2 separate regions of the Homo sapiens genome follow, and region 2 is linked to region 1. Evidence: fine-mapped expression QTL. Tissue or cell type: whole blood. Region 1 holds a variant in brackets; the other region holds the start of a gene. All regions are shown on one strand. Distances are between the middles of the regions.

Region 1 (8,105 bases):
ATAATAACATTATATGTAAATGGATTAAACAATCTAGTCAAAAGTCAGAGATTGTCACACGGGAAAAACAAACAAGACCCAACTATACCTTGTCTAAAGGAGCCACAATTTGGAGTTACAGATACAAATAGACTGAAAAAAAGAATTGGAAAAGGATATATTATGCAAACAGCAAACACAAGAGGGCTGGATTGGCTATACTAATTCATGTAAAATAGACTTTTAGCTGGACTGAATAAGTAAAAGACAGAAAAGACTCAATATTTAGAATCAGGAATGAATGAGGGAATGTTACTACTGAACTTACAGAAATAAAAATGATTATAAATGAAAACTGTGATCAATTATATGCTAATAAAATTAGGTAACCTAGATGAAGTGGGCAAATTCCTAGAAAGGCACAAACTACCAAAACTAATTCAAGAAGAAACAAACAATCTGAATAGACCTGTAACAAGCAAAAAGATTGAGTTAGTAAACAACAACAACAGAACTACTCCCAAAGAGAAACTCAGGGCCAGATGACTTCTGGTGAATTCTACCAAAAATTTAAAGAATTTCACAACTTTTTCTCCAAAAAAAAAGAAGATGAGAGAACAATTCCCAACTCTTTCTATGATGCCAGCAGTACACTGATACCAAAACCAGACAAAAAAATTACACGAGAAGAAAACTACAGACCAATATCTCATGATTATGAATGCAAAACTCCTACACAAAATACTGGCAGACTCAATCCAGCAACATATATAACAAATTATACACTATAACCAAGGGGTATTTATTCAAGAATGTAAGGTTAGTCAACATTTAAAAATCAATCAGTGCAATACACCATATCAACAGAATGAAGGACAAAACCAAATGATCATCTCAATAGATGCAGAAAAAAGCATTTGACAAAATCCAACAACATTTCATAATAAAAACATTCATCAAACCTGTAGTAGAAGGGAACTTCCTCAACCTGATAAAGGACATCTACAAAACACCTACTGCTAACATCATACTGAATCATGAAAGACTGGATACTTTTTCTCTAGGATCAGACACAAGGCAAGGATACCCACTCTTGCCACTTCTATTTAACATTATACTAGAGGTTCTAGCAGGCTAGTTGGTCAATTAAAAGAAATATAATGCATTCATATTGATAAGAAAGAAGTAAAATTATCTCTATTCACAGAAGACATAATATTATAAACAGAAAATCCTAACTCACTAGAAAAAGTATTAGAGCTAATAAATGAATTAAGCATGGTTGTAAAATACAAGATCAATATATAAAAGTCAATTGTATTTCTATACACTTGCAATGAACAATCTAAAAATGAAAGTAAGAAAACAATTCAATAGCAAATAGCACCAAAAACCTAAAATCCTTAGTGATAAACTTAACTAAAGAAGTGTAAAACATATAATCTGAAAACTACAAAACATTTTTATTAAGCAATCTAAAGAAAATAGAAATAATTAGCCAGGCATGGTGGTGCATGCCTATAATCTCAGCTGCTTGGGAGGCTGAGGCAGGAGAATTACTTGAACCCAAGAGACAGAGGTTGCAGTCAGCCGAGATTGAGCCATTGCACTCCAGCCTGGGCAACAAGAGCGAAGCTACATCTCAAAAAAAAAAAAAAAAAAAAAAAAAAAAAAAAAAAAAAAGGAAATAGAAATAAATGGAAGAACATCCCATATGCATGGATCAGAAGTCTTAATATTGTTAAAATGACAATATTCCCCAAATTGATGTACAGATTCAACAAAGTCTCTGTCAGAATCACAGCTGAATTCTTTTAATGGTAAAATAGAAAATCTGGTTCTAAGATTCATATGGAATTGTGGGGGATCAAGAATAGCCAAAAACAATTCTTAAAAAGAAGAACAAAGTAGGAGGACTTACACGTCCTGATTTTAAAACTCTCTACAGGCCGGGTGTGGTGGCTTACACATGTAATCCCAGCACTTTGGGAGGCCGAGGCAGGTGAATCACGAGGTCAAGAGATCGAGACCATCCTGGCCAACCCGGTGAAACTCCGTCTCTACTAAAAATACAAAAATTAGCTGGGTATGGTGGCGCACACCTGTAGTTCCAGCTACTTGGGAGGCTGAGGCAGGAAAATTGCTCCAACCCAGGAGGTGGAGGTTGCAGTGAGCCGAGATCATGCCACTGCACTCCAGCCTGGTGAGAGAGTGAGACTCCATCTAAAAAAAAAAAAGAAAAAAAGTACTACAAAGCAACAGTAATCAAGACAGTGTGGTACTAGCATAAGGATAGCCAGAAAGACCAATGGAATAGAATAAAAATCTAGAATTAAACCCATGCATTGGTGGCAAACTGATTTTTCACAATGTTGCCAAGATGGGGAAAGAATAGTTTTTTCAACCAGTGGTACTGGGACAACTGGGTAGACATATGCGAAGGAAAGAAGTTGGACCCTTACCTTACACCATATAAAAAATTGACTCAAAATGGATCAAAGACCTAAATATTCACTTCCATACAGTTTATCCATATAACCAAAATCCACTTGTACCCTAAAGCTGTCAAAGAAAAAAATAGACCTAAAACTATAAAACTATTAGAAGAAATATAGGAGTAAATCTTCAAGACCTCAGATTTGGCAATGATTCTTAGACTGAACACCAAAAGCATAAGCAACAAAAGAAATAAATAGAAAAATTAGAAATTTGTCGAAATTAAAAACTTTTGTGCTTCAAAAGATACCATCAAGAAAGTGAAAAGACAACCCACAGAATGGAATAAAATATTTTCAAATTATGTATCTGATAAAGGACTTGTATCTAAAAATATTTTTAAAAATCTTACAACTCAATAATTTTTTAAAAAACCAAATAAACAGCTGGGCGTGGTGGCTCATGCCTGTAATCCCAGCACTTTGGGAGGCCAATGAGGGTATATCACGAGGTCAGGAGTTCAAGATCAGCCTAGCCAAGACGGTGAAACCCCATCTCTACTAAAAATACAAAAATTAGCCAGGCATGGTGGTGGGCACCTGTAATCCCAGCAACTTGGGAGCCTGAGGTAGAAATTTCTTGAACCCGGGAAGTGGAGATTGCAGTGAGCCAAGATCGCACCACTGCACTCCAGCCTGGGCGACAGGGTGAGACTCCGTCTCAAAAAACAAGAACAAGAACAAGAACAAAAACAAAACAAGAACAAAAACAAAAACAAAAACCAAATAAACAAATTCAAGTCCTTTGGCCATTTCAAAATGGCATTTCTCCAAAGAAGATATACCAATGTCCAATAAACATGTGAAAAAATGATCAACATCATTAGTTATCAGGGAAATGCAAATCAAAACCAGGACACATTGATTCACATCCACTAGGATAGCTATAATAAAAAGTCAAATAACAAGTGTTGATGAGGATATGGAGAAATTGGGACCCTCATACAGTGCTGGTGGGAATATAAAATGGTACAGTCACTTTAGAAAACAGTCTGGCAGTTCTTCAAATGGTCAAGCGTGGAGTTACCCTATGACTTAGAAATTTTACTCTTGGGTATCTACCCAAGAGAAGTGGAAACACATGTTTACATTAAAACTTGTACACAAATGTTCACAGAAGCACTATTCATAATATCCAAAAGGTAGAAACAACCCAAATGTCCATCAACTGATAAATGGGTAAATAAAATGTGATATAGCCATAGACTAGAATATTATTCAGTCATAAAGAGAAAGGAATACTGGCGCTTGTTACTACTTGGATAAAACTTGAAAACATTATGCTAAGTGAAAGAGCTAGTCACAGAAAGACCACAAAAAGAGCTAGTCACAAAAAGAATATAATCCCATTTTTATTGAATGTCTAGAATAGGCAAATTA[T/C]AGGGACAGAAAGTAGATTAGTGGTTGCTTAGAGGTAGGGCATATGGGGGTGATAAGAGGGGTGATAGTTAAAGGATGTGAATTTTTTTTTTGAGCTATGAAAACATTCTAAAATTGATTTAGAAATGCTTGCATAAATCCATGAATATATTAAGCACCACTGAATTTTGCACTTTGAATGGGTGAATTGTATAGTGTGTGAATCATATCTCAATAGAACTGTTATTAAAAACCAAGCAAGAGTGAATCAGAAATAGGCCATCTCTCATTGGGATTGATGCTTAGTTTTGAATTATCTCCACGATTGGATTGAGATGATCGAAGACTGGTAATGTTTCTACCCTGGCTGTTCTCTAGAAGCAAATGTAAATCCTTTCTAAAGAAAGATACCATCATTCAGAACTTTATATTATCTCTATAGGTTTTCATAGACAATGTCTGGCACGCAATTAAAAATCACCAGGCAAATGAGAAGATGGGGTGTGATTGAAAACACAAGAAAAAGGACAGAAGAAACAGGCTTCATTATCTTTTAGGTTTCAGCTTAAACATTAGTTCCTCAGGAAAGTTTTTCTGAACTCCCTGGAATTATAAGTCCCTAAGCACATTTAGTTCCATTCCACCCTATGCTTCCCCTGGTTACTTATTCAACGTCTGCAAGCAAACTGTATAACCATGTTCAGTATATAAGTTGTGCATAAATTAGGATTTAACTTGTCCTATTCACAATAGGAAAGTCATAAAATCAACTTGAAAGTCAATCCATCAGCAGTGGATTGGATAAAGAAAATGTGGCACATGTACACCATGGAACACTATGAAGCCATAAAAAAGAACAAAATCATGTCCTTTGCAGCAACATGGCTGCAGCTGGAAGCTATTATCATAAATGAATTAATGCAGAAATAGAAAGCCAAATACCTCATGTTCTCACTTACAGGTGGAAGCTAAATCTTGGGTACACATGGACATGAAAATGAGAACAGACACTGGGGACTCCAAAAGGAGGGAGGGAGGGAGAAGGGCAAGGACTAAAAATCTCCCTATTGAATACTATGTTCACTCTCTGGGTGACAGGATCAACAGAAGCCCTAACTCCAGCATCATGAAATATACCCTCCCCTCTTTTTTTTTTTTTTTTTTGAGACAAGGTCTTGCTCTGTTGCCCAGGCTGGAGTACAGTGGCACAGTCATGGCTCCCTGTTGTTTTGACCTCCTGGGCTCATGCAGTCCTCCCACCTCAGCCTCCAGGTGCACACCACCATGCCTGGCTATTTTTAAAAATTTTTTTTGGTAGACATGGGGTTTTACCATGTTGCCCAAGCTGGTCTTGAACTCCTGGCCTCAAGGGATCTTCCTGCCTTGGTCTCCCAAAGTGCCAGGATTACAGGTTTGAGCCATTGCACCCGGCTGAAATATACCTTGAAACAAACCTGCACATGTACCCCCTGAAACTAAAATTAAAATAAAAAAGAATTTAACTTGTTATAGAGTTTCAGTCATCTCTCACATTTCCTCTGAAAAACTTATATATATATATTTTTCACTTACCATGTTAAAGTAAAATTTTACATGTAACATACATACAGAAAAGTAAAATACATATAGAAAAACGCACAACTCACAACTGGTGAATTTTCAGAAACAGAACACACCCTTGTAACCAGAATTAGACCATCCTAGGATCCCAGAGACCCTCTGGGATCCCTTCCTAGTCACCAGCCTTTCCCCAAAGTGTAGTGAATTTCTGTCTTCTAACACCTGTCTGTCAACGTTTCCAGGATTAGTTTTGTTTGCTTTAGTTCAATGTATTTTCAAAGCTTACAAAGATGCATGTGCAAGAACGTTCACTGCAATTTCGTTTATGATAGCAAAAGATGGAAAAGAATGAAAATGTCTATCAATAAGAGACTGAGTAAATTTATTATAGTCCTTCTTATAATAAAATTCTATGTAACCATTAAAAGTAAAGATCCAGATATGAATCTACTAACATGGAAAGATGTCCAAGATATGTCAGTAAAGTAGAAAATCAAGTTTTATATCTGTCTATCTATATCTCATTTATGTAAAAAAATTCGTATTGATTTGTGTGTTTGCAAATGCATAGCAAATATGTGTCCACTGTTCACAACTGGGAGAAGGGAATGGGCTAGGAAGGGTGGAAATTGCGCTTAAAAAATATGGGCATCTATTTTTTACAAGGAGCATGCATTCATTGTGGAATTTTAAAGGCAACTTAACAATTAAGAAAAAAACCCACAACACCTGAAACTTGCCTTTGGTGTTAACGCGGCTGAATTGAAAATTGTATTTATTTACTAATGAATTTTCACTGGCCTGTATCTATTAAACTGACAAATGTGCATCCTGTCTGACATAGAGATTCCCCTTCTTTGGGTATTCTCAAAGTAGCCTTTGTGTATACACACCAGAAGGCATCAGTGAAGATAGCCATTGTTTGTAAGAGCGAAACAATAGGAATAACGTCAGTGTCCAATCATAGAGGAAGAGCTAAGTAAACCATGATGTAGCCATTCACTAAATAATGTAGTAGTTAAGGAGAATGAGTGGCTCTATTTATTAGCATGAATAGGTCTCTAAGACAAATCTTTGAGTGCAAAAAGCAAGGTACCGAGTACTGTGCAAAGCATCATAACCCTCCTCTGGCTATGCATACATATGTACATAGGGCATATGAAAACATCTAGAAGGATGCATTCCAACCTGATGTCCATTTTATCAGCCCAGGAGGTGGTGAGTCTAATGTGCAAGGTTTCAGCCTGAGGGCTGAAGGCAGCCAGGTGTGAGCTTGAAATAACATGAACTTTCCTTCTCCTGAGCATGGACTTCCTGTCCGTTATGGCATGTAATCCTCAGAGGCTCAGAGAAGGGAAGGGACTTGTGCAGGGCCACACAGAGGGTAGGTGGCCGAGCTGGGATCAGCTCCAGGTGGGTTTGGCTTCAAAGCCCGTGCTCAGCCCACTTCTCCCTGGGGCAGGTGACGTGGAGGCTCAGGGGAGCTGGAGGGACTCAGTGGGGAGGGGAGGGGCCTCCTCCTCACCGGGTTCCCTGCTTGGTCTCAGAATTCCTCTCCTCACTCTGCTGAGCAGCCTGATGGGTGAAGAGCACTTTCAGGCCAGGGGCACAGACATGCTGGGGGTTCCCTTTAGGACATCCTTCTCAGCATTCCATCTCATCTGTGGAAGCTCTGGGCAGGAGGAAGTTCTTGTGGATATGGAGCTGGAATCTTCCTCTGTGGGAGTTCCCCACAAGCCCCAGTGTTGCCATCTGTGCCCTGTAGGCCGCTTGCTTCCTTAGAGGGATGGTGAGAGGGTGCCCAGCACTGCCCTTCTCCAGGCTGAGCCACCTCAGCTCCTCAAAGGGTGGGCCTCCAGCCACCTCCCTTTTGCAGTTATCTCCTCGAGACCCTTGCCCCGGGCTGGGCCTGTCCCCTCTGAGGTGGGCCTCCTAGGGAGGATCGGCTGCTGATAACCAGATGAGGCTGTCTTCTGGATTCTGTAGAATGGGAAGGAGATCCTTGGAGGAGAAGATGCCAGCTCTGCCGGGGTCTCGTGGGTCATGTGCTCCCAGGGTGACTTCAGGGAAGACCTGTCATGGTTCTCGACACTCCACAGCCTGGGCCACTTTTCACACTGCCAACACGGAACCAGAGTCTGTGGCCAGCGTGGCCAAGCCAGGCACCTCTGCTAGCAAGGCACATCGCTCGGTGGTTTCCGTAAGTTGGTGGTGGTTGCATAACTACTTCACCAACTGCCATGCCAGATATATTTTGCAACCCAGCCCGCTGTGCCACACACGTCGCGGGCACAGCCAGGCCTCCCACAGCGGCGGGAGGAAGTCTGAGAGTGAGACTCTGACAGCGCCTCCCAGGAGCCTTCCACAGGACACCGCCTCTCCCCAGGCCCTGCATGCACCCCCAGCTGGGCAGCGCAGGAGGCTCCTGGGGCCCCACTGTCCTCTGAGAGGACACCATCCTCTTGGGGATCAGGTGGAGATAGGCCCCGAAGTCCCACTGGAGGGAGACAGCCACCCTCAGTCCACAGGCTGGATCCCACACAGGCCACAAGCCTGGAAAGGACCTGCAGACACACGGGGGAAGCTCAGCATTGTTCCAGGAGGCATGGGAGGGGGGGCTCCAGAGCTAGTCCGGAGGACAGGTGGACCCATAGCCACCTGAGAGGAGAGAGGGAGAGTTCACCCTCATGCAGGAAGAGACAGGAAACTGCA
Region 2 (8,105 bases), 900 kb before region 1:
GTGGTTTTCCTCCTGTCAAAAGTACACCACTACAGGAAAGCAGGAAGGTTTGGGCCTGCAATGTATGCATATTGGGTTTCTCTTAGTGGTCTCAGACTACGTTTGTGGTGACTGGGTCCTGCTTCAGCCCTGTTGAATATGCCCAGCCTGTGGCATGCTGGTGGTCATCCTGGCAGCTGGTGGGTGGCCTGGTATGCTGCCCACTCAGCTTGAGACTCACCCTCATGCATTCAGCCAGTAGGTCTGGCCAAGCCTGAACTGAAGGACCATGGTCCTATCCCAGCTTCATCAGAGCAATCCATTGTGACCTGAGAATCCATTTAACCTCTCGGTCTAGAACCTCCTTCTGGAAAGTGAGGTATTAATACTTGACTCATGTTATCGCCACCCCACATTCTAAGTCATGGTTGAGTAGTAATTTGGACAGTACCTTGTAAATTGTGTGAGATTACCTTAATATAAGGTATAACTTAAAATATTCATGAATCCCAGGAGGTTAAAGGTTATAACTTTTAGGTATGGTATCGTAATGTACTGTCCCCCAGCAAACATTTAAAAAGCCAATTTTAAAAAATGTATTTCTGACTAAGTTACATTAAGGTCTCTGCCTCTGTATCTTATGTTTCTTCCAGGTGCACCCTGAAGACCACAAATTAAATAAATATCATGACTGGCTTTGGGAAAATCATGAAAAATTAAGTCTATCTTAAACTCTGCAGCTTTCAAGCTCATCTGTTATGCATAGCTTTGCACTTCAAAAAAGCTTAATTAAGTACAACCAACCACCTTTCCAGCCATAGAGATTTTAATTAGCCCAACTAGAAGCCTAGTGTGTGTGCTTTCTTAATGTGTGTGCCAATGGTGGATCTTTGCTACTGAATGTGTTTGAACATGTTTTGAGATTTTTTTAAAATAAATTATTATTTGACAACAATCCAAAAAAAATACGGCTTTTCCAATGATGAAATATAATCAGAAGATGAAAAATAGTTCTAAACTATCAATAATACAAAGCAAATTTCTATCAGCCTTGCTAAAGCTAGGGGCCCACTAAATATTTTTATCGGCTAGGCGTGGTGGTGCATGCCTGTAATCTCGGAAGGCTGAGGCAGGAGGATCATTTGAGCTCATGAGGGCCCAGGAGGTCAAGGCTTCAGTGAGCCATGATCATGCCACTGCACTCCAGTCTGGATGACAGAGAGAGACCCTGTCTCAAAAAATATATATTTAAAAAATAAAAATAAAAGCTGACCCCAAAGACAAATAAGATTCCTCTGGCATTGTGTATTGTTGACAGCTCCACACTAGCTCTTAGGAATTGTAGATTCCACCCCAGTATCCATTTGATAACCTAATGTGAATATGGGCCTGCTGCTCCATTTCAGCTCACTCACTCTTTTACCTTGGTCCCTTTGTGAAAACTCATTTCTCATCTTCCATTTGGAGTTTATACCATTTGGCCAGGCACAGTGGCTTACACCTGTAATCCTAGCACTTTGGGAGGCTGAGGCAGGAGGATTGCTTGAGCCCAGGAGTTCAAAACCAGACTGGGCAACATAATGAGACCCCGTCTCTACAAAAAATTTTAAAAATTAATTGGGCATGGTGACATACACTTGTGGTCCCAGCTACTCAGAAGGCTGAGGTGGGAGAATCCCTTGAGCCCAGGAGATTGAGGCTGCAGTGAGCTATGATCACACCACTGCACTTCAGCCTGGATGACACAGCAAGACCCTGTCTTAAAAAAAATAAGTCTTAATGCCATTTTTATTACAAGTATTGTTACAGTTCAAATACCAAAGCATTTACTATTAGAAAGAAACCAAGGGAAAAAACTAGTTACTATGTCTTAATTACCAACTACCATTTTAAGGTATAATTTGAAAATTAAATTGATTGAATAAATGAAAAATAAATCAGTTGTTCAGGAAACTGCCTTTGTTGTAGGGCAGTGTGAACCGAATCAGGCTGCAGTGTGATGCAGAGGTAGTTGGTTGTTTCCACTTTAGTGAGTGTCAGTTTTTAGAAGGATAGATTTTGACCAGAGAACAGGAAAACTGGCCACACCTCCCTCTCCCCAAGGCAAACCCACTTTATAGTTTACCATCACATTTTCATTTAACAAACATCCAAGTAGCATTCACAAAGTGTAAAGCCCTGTGGTGGGGAGGGGCACAAAGATAAACAAGTTCTGTACAGACCCTCACAGAGAGAAAGAAGGGCACCTAATAATGGAAGGGAACAAAAGCGGTAAGGAGTAGGGACAAGACACCCAAAGAGGGTGGAGAGGGGCCTCTGAAACCTTGGGCCCAGCTGGGCCTGGAGGGTGGGGCGAGCTCACCAAGCTCAGGGCATCAGGTGTGGCTTTGTGGTAGGGCTGGTGGTCACATACCTTCCCCCAGCATCTCCATGGGGAGTGTGGGCCCGTGTGAATGCAGGAGGCGAGCTCTGCACCAGGGGAGCTCAGGACACAGCCAGGTTGCTCAGGCTCTAGGCCTGGCTTTTCCTGTTTCTTGCAGGTGAGGTTGCCTGACCTCTGTACCTGTTAACTTGTCTTTTAAAAATGGGATAGTGGTGTCTACCTCACACAATGATGGTAATTATGAAGTTCAGACATGTAGTGCTAAAATGGTACCTGGCTTGCAAGAGTGCTGTGTGAATGTGGCCCATGGCAACAATCTGTTTGCAAGCGTCACAAAGATAGCTTGTCTCAGCAAAGGAATAAGGGCTTAGGTGTTTCTCTTTAACTTTTTAAAAATTGAGCTAAAAGCCACCATTTAACCATTTTAAAGTGTACAGTTCAGTGGTTTAGTACATTTACAGTGTGCAGCCATCATCACTAATTCCAGAAGTTTCCATTTCTTTTTTCCACTCCAAAAAGAATCTCTCCACCTGTTAGCAGTCACTTCAATTACTCACCCCATCCCCTAGCAACCATTCATCTACTTTCCGTGTCTGTGGGTTCGTCTATGCTGAACATTTCACATAAATGGAATCATACAGCACGTGGCCTTTTGTGTCTAGCTTCTTGCTTAGCATACTGTTTTGAAGGTTTATCCATATTGTAGCATGTACTTCATTCCTTCTTATGGCCATCCTATGGATATACCTCATTTTGCTTATCAGTTGATGCACATTTCAAGGGTTTATTATTATTCTCTGGTCCTCAGGTTCTGTAACTCCAAACCATGGCACCCTGCCATAAGCGGGGCAGAACATACCCAACACCTCTATCTGGCCACAGCTCACTTTGGTTCTTCCTAACCCTCTGGAGGAGGCAGGGCCTATTTTTCCTATGAGAAAACTGAGGCCTAGAGATATGGAGACCTGCGGAAGATCCCACATTTCACGGGAAAACCGGAGACTTTCTACACTGGATTCAGGGACTACTGGGCCGAACAAAGAAATCCCGCCTTTCACCAAGCCCAGAACTGGGCGGGGCGTGGATTTGCTCGCTGCCCCTCCCAGAATTGGACGAAAACGAGGTGGGGCCAGCAGGCGCTCGGCAGGGCGGGCTCGCTCTTAACACGTGACAGCGCTCAGCCAATTGGCGCGGGGCGTCCGTAGCCACGGCAACAGGTTGCTTCTGCAGTCTGAGCTGAGCGCCTTTCGCACGACTTGGAGTTACGGTTTATCTGATACCCCGGTACCCCTACGCAAGCAAGCCCACATCGACACACATTCACACACGCCCTTCAGCACCCCCTCCCAGCACCACGACCATGGACGACGACTATGAAGCGTACCACAGTCTGTTCTTGTCGCTGCTCGGTAAGCCCCGGGAAGAAGCGTCTGCAGGGAGCGCTCAGCGCCCTAAGGACGCGTGAAAGTGGGGTGAGGGCAAAAACTCAGCCACAGATATTGTGCCGACCCCCTCTGGGTGAAGGGTTGCCATGGAGTCGGGGGCAGGTCATGTACATTTCTGAGATTTCTATCTGAGCCTAGTTGGAGGAACCAGAGGCCCGACCCATGTGACGGGAGCCCTCCAGCTCGCCCTGTTTCTCTGCAGGACATTAATGTATTCAGTACTGGAGGAGAGGCATGGAGAAGACGTCAGTCTTCAAGGTTTTGGCAGTAATGTGCTGGGGACCAAGTTCTTGGCAAAGCAATGCAGCTTCACGGGTAAAGGACAGAGATAAATGGATAATTACAGAATAAGAAGGGGTAAATGCCGGGCCCAGGGATGACACCCAGGAGTAAAAGGTGTGCTGAGGGTATGGGATGGGGAGGAACAGTTCCAAGCTTTTGGAAAAGATCTTTACACTGGAGCTTAAAGGATAAAAAGGAGTTCTCCAAGCCAAAAGGGGAAGGAAAAGCATTTCGGGCAAGGAAACAGCATGACCCAAGAGGTCTGGTGTCTCTGGAAATGAGGTGAGAGAGGTCAGAAGGGACAAGATCATAAAAGATACTGCAAGCCAGGAGATGGAGAGGCCACTGGGAGTGGCAGGACTGGATTGGGAGCAGTCAGAAAAGACCTGAGACTGAGTTGGCAGACTCAGAATGTTGGTGTGGGGAGATGAGAGCTGGGGGCTATAAAGCTTGAAGACTGAAGGTCTTCTCCATGCCGCTTCTCCAGCACTGAACACATTAATGCCCAGTGGAGAAACAGGGAGAGCTGGAGAGGCTGGCCACCTTTCCCAGGCACACAGGTCAGGGCTCTGGTCAAATGCCCAAGCTAAAGATGCTGGGAGGTGAGGGAGAAGGCCCAGGCTAGAGGGAACTACGGGACTTGGGGGCTGGTTGGTCAGGAAACACAGAAGAGGCAAATAAAGATGGTTCTCAAGTTGGCAGCTGGGGGACCTGGTAGATGGAGATGTCTTCCACAGAGATAAGAGAACGTACTCAGAGGACCCAGTTAGTGGGGGAAGGGGCACAAAGACAAATCCAGTCTTGGTTGGTTGAGTTTAAGATCCTTGTCAGTAGCTGGGCACAGTATCTCACGCCTGTAATCCCAGCACTATGGGAAGCTGAGGCAGGAGGATTGCTTGAGCCCAGGAGTTTGAGAATAGCCTGGGCAACATAGTGAGATCCCATCTCTACAAAATTGTTTTTTAAAGTTAGCCAGGCCTGGTGGGGTGGCTCACGCCTGTAATCCCAGCACTTTAGGAGGCTGAGGTGGGTGGATCACGAGGTCAGGAGATCAAGACCATCCTGGCTAACACAATGAAACCCCGTCTCTACTAAAAATACAAAAAATTAGCCGGGCATGGTGGCAGGCGCCTGTAGTCACAGCTACTCAGGAGGCTGAGGCAGGAGAATGGCATGAACCAGGGAGGTGGAGCTTGCAGTGAGCCAAGATCATGCCATTGCACTCCAGCCTGGGTGACAGAGCAAGACACCATCTCAAAAAAAAAAAAAAAAAAAAGGTTAGCTAGGCTTAATGGCATGCACCTGTAGTCCCAGCTACTCAGGAGGCTGAGCTGGGAGGATCATTTGAGCCCAGGAGTTCAAGGCTGCAGTGAGCTATGATTGAGCCACTGTACTCCAGCTTGGGGAACAGAGCAAGACCCTGTCTCAATTAAAAATAAATAATAAAAAAAGATCCCCGGCCGGGCGCCGTGGCTCACGCCTGTAATCCTAGCACTTTGGGAGGCTGAGGTGGGCGGATCACCAGGTCAGGAGATCGAGACCATCCTGGCTAACACAGTGAAACCCCATCTCTACTAAAAATACAAAAAATTAGCCGGTCGTGGTGGCAGACACCTGTAGTCCCAGGTACTCGGGAGGCTGAGGCAGGAGAATGGCGTGAACCCGGGAGGCAGAGCTTGCAGAGAGCCGAGATCGTGCCACTGCACTTTAGCCTGGGAAACAGAGCAAGAGTCCGTCTCAAAAAAAAAAAAAAAAAAAAAAACAAAAAAAAACCCTGTAAGCCATCCAAGTGGAGATGTTTTAGGAACAACTGGAGGTATAAACTTGGAGCTAATTCCAAGTCAAAAATATTGGTATGGATGTCCCCAGCATACAGAAGGTCATAGAAACATGAGAATGGAAGGGATTATTTAAAAAGAGAAGAGACCCTGGGTATAAGCCTGGAAGCAACAACCTTTAAGGAGTAATCAGGAAAAGAGGGGCCCAAAAACAATAGCCGGAGAGGTAGAATTGGACATAGCAAGAGATTGAATCAAGCCAAGAGCAGGGAGAATTTCAAGAAAGAGTAGAATTGTTTCCAGACACCTATAGGCTGTCTGAGAAAAGAGAGAACAAGTGTGTTTTCTGGGACATCCATGGGGAGGACTAGAACCAAAGGGTAGAAAGTCCAGGGAAACAAATTCTGGGTCAATATAAGGAAATATTTTCTAGCAGTCAGAGTTTAGTGTCCACCATGTTAAGTAGAAAGTTCCACGTCACAGGAGATGTATAAACAGAGGCAAAGTCTGCCAGTGGCATTGAGGAGAGTGTCCCTGACCTGGGCAGGTGATTGAACTAGCTGGCGTCTGAGAGCTTTCCTTGCCAATTTCCTAGGAACATTGTCACATAGTCTCTACCCATAACTACACAATGACAGCCTCTTTTATTATAAGAGCCCATTTCCCTTTCTGTCAATGGACACAGGACTCCAAAGAGCACTAGAATGAAGCTCCCTGAGGAGGTTTGGTGGGCAGGCACCCTTGGAAAGTGGGGTCAGGGGCTGGTGCAGGTTTAGAACTGTGAGGAGAATGACTCGGCCAGGGGAAGCCCTGGGGAATGCAGTGCTCTTCAGAGGGCACAGCAAATGCAAAAACTGAAAACCCAGAGCCAGGAAGGAACAAGGCACCTCAGACAACAGAAAGGAGGACAGCAGCTGGGACCACATGAGTGAGGGGGCGGGGGCTGGGAGGTGACAAGGGAAGAGTGGGGAGCAGGGCCAGTGAAGGCAGCTTTGTAGGCCACAGAAGGAGGCGGGTATTTATTCAAAGAGCACTAAGAATCCATTGAATGGTTTCAAATGGGGAAGGGACAGACTGTGAATTTACATTTGTAAGGCTCTCCTGGCTGAGGGCAGAACATGGATTGGGGGTCTAGGGAGGACCCAAATGGGAGCAGCAAGACCTGTGGGGAGCAGGTTTTGTGTTCCCGTGGCCTGCAGGGTAAAGTTTCAATCTCTTAGCCTGGCATTTGAGATGACGCCAACCTTATTTCCCACTAACCTCCTCCTTTACACACAGTGGGCTTCCAACATGTGGAACTGTCTGGTGACCCTAAAATCCCCAAATCCCACTCCTGACCTTTCCCCATCCCTGCCCCTCCACCCCATGAAGCCAGACCATTCTTGAAGGTCCACATCAAAGACACCTCTTCCTTGATGCCCTCCCAGGTCCCACAGTCAGCATTTCTCCCCCAACTGAGAACATCTTGTTACCCTCTGGGTGCCCCACCTTGTTCCATTGGGTGGACTGAGAACAGGTGAACCACGGTAGGTGCCCAGCCTAGTTTAATCTGCACCTGGTTCAGCACCAAGCCCTGGGGGATTCTCAATAAATACTGATTTGATGAATGACTACATTCTCAGTCATCCCCTGCTGGGAATGAACTTTCTTGTGGTCAAAGTAATGATACATGTGTTGTTTAGAAGTGTTCGCTTCCATCCCTATTGATGTGTAATATCTGTTCTAGCATTGCTATAAAGAACTACCTGAGACTAGGTAATTTATAAAGAGATGAGGTTTAATTGACTCACAGTTCCTCAGGCTGTACAGGAAACATGGCTGGGGAGGCCTCAGGAAACTTACAATCATGGCAGAAGGCAAAGACAGGCACATCTTACATAACCCAAGAAGGAGGAAGTGAGAGCAGGGGGAGGTGCTATGCTTTTGAACAACCAGATCTTGTGAGCACTCGCTCTCATGAGAACAGCAAGGGGGACGTCCTCTCCCATGATCCAATCACCTCCCACTAGACCCCTCCTCCAACAATGGGGATTATAATTTAACATGAGATTTGGGCAAGGACACAGATGCAAACCATACCATGATGTTTACTTTTCTTATTTGCTGACTCTGAAAGGAACACATGGGCCTTGTAAAGAGACTTAACAAATGTACTGAATGTCCACTTTGGGCCAGGCTGGGCACCGAGGACACAGGGGAACTAAGACACAGTCCTGGTCACTGGGAAACTCACAGGCT

What was found. PIP is the estimated chance that this variant, and not a neighbour inherited with it, causes the effect.
Region 2: EFCAB12 starts here. The variant in region 1 is fine-mapped to the expression of EFCAB12 in whole blood (INTERVAL, PIP 0.98).

The regions. Positions count from the first base shown.
Region 1 is chr3:128,523,309-128,531,413 of GRCh38, reverse strand. No RefSeq gene overlaps it. Among named protein-coding and RNA genes, the nearest start is that of GATA2, 34 kb to the right of the region's middle. RefSeq lists an enhancer at 6,317-6,816. The variant T/C (reference allele first, on the strand shown) is at 3,855.
Region 2 is chr3:129,424,106-129,432,210 of GRCh38, reverse strand. It overlaps EFCAB12 (EF-hand calcium binding domain 12), which reads left to right and starts at 3,575. Exons shown (of 9, transcript NM_207307.3): 1 at 3,575-3,771. The coding sequence starts at 3,723. MBD4 (methyl-CpG binding domain 4, DNA glycosylase) reads left to right here. Exons shown (of 8, transcript NM_001276270.2): 8 at 633-1,264. The coding sequence ends at 710. RefSeq lists a silencer at 3,389-3,438 and an enhancer at 7,621-7,670.